Regions from separate parts of the Homo sapiens genome. Here region 2 is linked to region 1. The links come from fine-mapping of genetic effects on gene expression. Tissue or cell type: visceral fat. Region 1 holds a variant in brackets; the other region holds the start of a gene. All regions are shown on one strand. Distances are from middle to middle.

Evidence for each region. PIP is the estimated chance that this variant, and not a neighbour inherited with it, causes the effect. A credible set is the group of variants that fine-mapping cannot tell apart.
Region 2: USP50 starts here. The variant in region 1 is the best candidate, but not a certain one, in a credible set for the expression of USP50 in visceral fat (GTEx, PIP 0.70).

The regions. Positions count from the first base shown.
Region 1 is chr15:50,654,578-50,657,495 of GRCh38, forward strand. The region is part of intron 3 of TRPM7 (transient receptor potential cation channel subfamily M member 7); the gene reads right to left. All of the region lies in intron 3 of LOC128092252, which reads right to left. Among named protein-coding and RNA genes, the nearest start is that of TRPM7, 31 kb to the right of the region's middle. The variant G/A (reference allele first, on the strand shown) is at 1,147.
Region 2 is chr15:50,545,131-50,548,048 of GRCh38, forward strand. USP50 (ubiquitin specific peptidase 50) reads right to left here and starts at 1,536. Exons shown (of 7, transcript NM_203494.5): 1 at 1,343-1,536. The coding sequence starts at 1,395.

The DNA of each region.
Region 1 (2,918 bases):
GAAGGGCATACAGGAATAGACAGTCATAATGAGAGTGCACATGGTGCATCTCAGCAGTAAAATGGAAACTATAACAAAGAATCAAATAGCAATCCTAGCACTGAAAAATGTAATGTATGAAATGAAAATTCACTGGATGGGCTGGGCGCAGTGGCTCACGCCTGTAATCCCAGCACTTTGGGATTACAGGCGGGCAGATCACAAGGTCAGGAGATCAAGACCATCCTGGCTAATAAGGTGAAACCCCATCTCTACTAAAAAAAACCACAAAAAACTACCCGGGTGTGGCAGCAGGCACCTGTAGTCCCAGCTACTCGGGAGGCTGAGGCAGGAGAATGGCATGAACCCAGGATGCAGAGCTTGCAGTGAGCTGAGACTGCGCCACTGCACTCCAGCGTGGGCGACAGAGTGACACTCCGTCTCAAAAAAAAAAAAAAAAAGAAAAGAAAATTCACTGGATGGACAAAACAGCAAAATGGAGAATGTAGAAATAAGAGTGAACCTGAAGACATCAATAGAAATTATTCAATACATCAGATAAAGAAAAAAAAGTTAATTAAAAAAAAAAAACTTCCTGGCCAAATGCAGTGGCTCACGCCTGTAATCCCAGCACTTTGGGTGGCCAAGGCGGGCGAATCACGAGGTCAGGAGTTCAAGACCACCCTGACCATCAAGGTAAAATCCCATCTCTACTAATAATACAAAATGAGCCAGGCATGGTGGCATGCGTCTGTAATCCCAGCTACTCAGATGGCTGAGGCAGGAGAATTGCTTGAACCTGGGAGGCAGAGGTTGCAGTAAGCCAAGATCGCACCACTGCACTCCAGCCTGGACAACAGACCAAGACTCCATCTCAAAGGAAAAAAAAAACAAAAAAACAAAAAACCTTCTCAATCAGGTAAAAAATTTGAACGTGCAAATATTTACGCAAGCAGAATAAGTACAAAGAGAATCACTCTCAGGCATATTATAGACATGCTGCTGAAAACCAAAGGAATAGAAAAAAAAAATATTTAAAGTAGCTAGAGAAGAAAAAGACCCATTCCACACAGGAAGACAACTACTGTATTACAGCTGCCTTCTCATTAGAAACAAAAGCTACAAGATAAAATAATGACACCTTTAAAGTGCTGCAATGGGCTGGGC[G/A]CAACAGCTCACGCCTGGAATTCCAGCACTTTGGGAGGCCAAGGCAGGCAGATCACAAGGTCAGGAGACCAGCCCAGCCACCATGGTGAAACCCCATCTATACTAAAAGTACGAAAATTAGCCAGGCATGGTGGTGTGTGCCTGTAATCCCAGCTTCTGGGGAGGCTGAGGCAGGAGAATCACTTGAACCTGGGAGGCAAAGGTTGCTGTGAGCTGAGATCGCACCACTGTATGCCATCTAGCCTGGGCAACAGGGCAAGACTCCATCTCAAAAAAAGAAAAAAACAAAAAAAAAAAACCCCTGCTGCAATAAAATAACACAACCCAGAATTCTATATCCAGTGAAAACATTCTTCAAACATGAAAATAAAAGAAATATATTTTCAGATAGACCAAACTGAGAAAATTCATGTTCAGTTCAGTGTAGCTGCACTATATGAAATGCTAAATAAAAGAAACTCTTTGGCATCGTCAAACAAGAGACACCAGATGGAACCTCACCATCTATAAGAAGAAATGAAAAGGACTGGAGATGGTTAAGTACAGGGGCAAATATGAAAGACTGTCAGGTCTTTTTGTTTGTTTTTTTTTCTGGAGACAGGGTCTTGCTCTGTTGCCCAGGCAGGAGTGCAGTGGTGTGATCAGGGCTTATTGCAGCCTCAACTTCCCAGGCCCAAACGATCCTCCCGGCTCCAATGATGTTCCTGCTTCAGCCTCTTAAGTAGCTGGGACTACAGGTACATGATACCATGCCAAGATTTTTGTGTGTGGTTTTCTTTTTTTTTTTTTTTTGGTAGACACAGGGTCTCACTATGCTACCCGGGCTGGTCTCAAACTCCTAGGCTCAAACCATCCTCCTGCCTCAACCTCCCCAAGTGCTGGGATTACAGGCGCGAACCATCACATCCAGCCTGTCAGGTTTTTTGTTTTTGTTTTTACAGACTTCCTTGAAAAACTCTTCAATATATCTAAAATAAACCCATTCTATGTACTTTTATTCCTAGCCTACCACCCAGAGACCTTCTCTTCTTCCTCTTATACTTCCTCATCAGACCCTAAAGCATATTACAATTTACTCAGTTGCCTAAGAAGGAAATGTAGTTACCATGCTCAAATCTTCCCTTTTCTTCACATTCACCAAATCCTATTGCATTTATCTCATTAAGCCCTTCAAATATGCCTACTTCTCTTCATTGTCAAAAACATCTTACTTCAGGTTCTCATCTTTTTGCCAGAGTCACTCTAAAACTTTAGCAACTGGTCTATTTTCTTCCAATCCAATCTAAAAATGCAAACTGCTCTTACAAAAAATAAAATCAGCCGGGCCTGGTGGCTCACACCTGTAATCCTAGCACTTTGGGAGGCCGAGGCGGGTGGATCACCTGAGGTCAGGAATTCAAGACCAGCCTGGCCAACATGGTGAAACCCCATTTCTACTAAGAATACAAAAATTAGCCGGGCATGGTGGCGCATGCCTGTAATCCCAGCTACTCGGGAGGCTGAGGCAGGAGAATTGCTTGAACCCATGAGACAGAGGTTGCAGTGAGCCGAGATTGTGCCACTGCACTCCAGCCTGGGTAACAGAGCAAGACTCCGTCTCAAAATAATAATAATACTAATATAGCATGTTATTAATTGCCTGTACAATATCCTTTTAACATGAAATCAAAAGCATGTGCAACAAAAAGCCTTGTAGAGTAACTGAAACTCTCATTTTTCCAGGCCCAAATCTCTCAAATCTCCATCTTACATTCTGCAGTTTCCTGACAGAA
Region 2 (2,918 bases), 110 kb before region 1:
CAAGTACCTGAAGCCAAATAAGACAGATAAAAATTTCCTTCTAAAACTAAAGCAAGACAACTGACAACTTGCTGGGCAAGTAATTAAATTATTATTATTATTATTAATAGTTAATAAAACAATAGCTATCAGGTAGTGAGCCTGGCACTATTTAAGTACTTAACATGCATTTTCCCATTAAATCTTTCAACAATTGTGTAAGGCAGGAACGATTATTTTTACATCCCATTTTACAGATGAGATGTCAGGTTTAAATGATGTAGTCATTTACTCATGGGGTGTGTGGTGGTATGTAAAAAAAGGAATATCCACCTATCTGTTTACCTCCCTCCCTCTCTCCCAACATACCTATCCATTAAGATATTTGGATTTACATATATTAAGATTGTCTATATATATTAAGATTGTCTCTATATATGTGATATATATGTATATATTTGTATATATATGTATGTATGGCATATATATTGAAGGCATAATATATGCACATTAAGAGCATGAATATATATATCTTAAGAGCACACATATGTGTATATGTGTATGTATATAGCTATATACATATAAACACACACACACACATATACACGGAGAGGAGAAAGAGCACAGACTTTGTAAAAATATAGATCTTAGTTTAAATCCCAACTATGCCGTTTATTAATTATAGGATCTGGGATTCTATGTCCGTTTCTCATCTATAAAATAGGAATAATATCATCTGCCTGATAGGATGGTTGTGAGGATTATGCAGGTATCATGCAAGCTACTTGACACAGGTTCGTCTAAATGACAACTGAAAAATTTTTTTAAGTGATTGATCTAGGATGTCCTTCCCAGTAAGCTACAGGATTAGAGTGTTCATGTGAATTGCCCAGACCTGCCTGCACAGAGAGAACACTGAGGGTTCCAAACGGGACCTCCTCTCCCTGCACAGAGCTTCCTCTTACAATTTTTTGTATTGTGCCAGGCAGCCTGGTATCTATGTCCTCTCGGATTTTTCTTTCCATATATTGTATCTAAAGTTGGGGCTCCATGAGACAGTGACCTTACCTCATACATACTTTTAAGTACAGTTATGCCAGTTTGAAAAGTGTTCACTGTTATAAGCATGGTCATTTTCACTTTTACTCACTGATACCACAGGAGGTCCTAGACTGTCACCCTTTAGGAAGGACATGTATTTATTGCCAAGATATTAGGTACAATCTTCCTTCCTTTCCGGGGACCTTCCATGGGTCACACCTGGGAGAACCCTCCTGAATGCAGTGTGTGTCCCCTGACTCCTCTGAGCTTGACTTTCCCACCACTGGGCTAATCTAGAAAGCTGTAGTAGATCAAGGCTCACAGGACGTGGTAGATATCGAAGTCATCTGCAGGGAGAGACGGCTGAGAAGTCATTTTAATGGAACCACGTTGGACTTTTGCTTCTATTCAGGAGCTACATCTATTCCTTTCAACTTCATTTCTCTGAGCCTGTTAACGCTGGCTTTTTGTTTTAAACAATTGATATGCTCCTCTCTCTTCCAGTAGCTGCGAACTGATTTTCACCTGTATCAGGCACCACTCCAACTTGGATTTTCCGTACATCATAATCCTTTCCATTCACCTTCAAGATTCTATCATGTTGCCATGAGACACTGTTACTGGGTTGTCTGAAATGTTTTAGAAAGATTAGGCTCCAGAGAATGAACTACACATATAACCTCTCTTCCTTCTTCCATCACTCAGTTTCTCTTGTGTATATATATATTACACATACACACACACACACTTAACATGTGCACAAAAATTTACCGCCACTGAGTTAGTGGACACTACGGCAACCCTGCCTGCTCTGGGCACTCATTCCCCCTTCCCAGCGACTACACCACACCTAGGAGCCCTGAGGGAATTTCCTCACCCCGGGGAGCGAGGATTTCCACTTCTATTCAGGAGCTAGATCTATCCGGACTGAATACCGGATCAGAAAAAAAAAATTGCCATAAAAGAACATTATGGGAACGATTGATGAAATTTGAATATGGATAATATGCAGATAGTTTTTTCTATTAATGTTGAATCTTCTGAATTTGATAAGATTGTACTGTGTTTATGCAAGGGGATGCCCTTGTTCTTAGAAAATACACACTGAAGTTTTTCGGGGCACAGGGGCATGATATATGCAACCTATTTTCAAACGGTTCAGGAAGCACACAGGGACAGGAGGACAGGAAGGAAGGGGACTGATAAAGCACATACTATAAAGCCAGTGCACCCACACGCCAGCAGTTGGTGATTCCGAGTGAAGGCCCACTAAAGAGCACTATTCTTGCAACTCTTCTGCAAGTTTAAAAAATTAAAAAGAGGCCGGGCGCATCGGCTCACGCCTGTAATCCCAGCACTTTGGGAGGCTGAGGCGGGAGGATCACGAGGTCAGGAGACAGAGACCATCCTGGCTAACACGGTGAAACCCCATCTCTACTAAAAATACAATTAACTGGGCGTGGTGGCGGGCGCCTGTAGTCCCAGCTACTCGGGAAACTGAGGCAGAAGAATGACGTGAACCCGGGAGGCGGAGCTTGCCGTGAGCCGAGATCGCGCCACTGCACTCCAGCCTGGGCAACAAAGCGAAGACTCGGTCTCAAAAAAAGAAAAAAAAAATTAAAAAGAAAGAATATATTACACATATTTTTTGCTAAAATGGATTTCTCTCCAGATATATGACTGGTAAGTCAAAAAAAGCAAGGTGTTGAGGAATCCATAGTATGCACCCCAACTTATGTCTAAATGGTTAAAAAAAACCCACATATATGCTCAGGCTACACGAAGATATTTAGAATATTCATTCTTTGACACCTGGATAAGGAATCCTGGCAAGTAGAGCTGTCCTCTCTTGCAGGTATTTGATATTTGCGATGTATTTACAGAGGTATCTCTCCAAG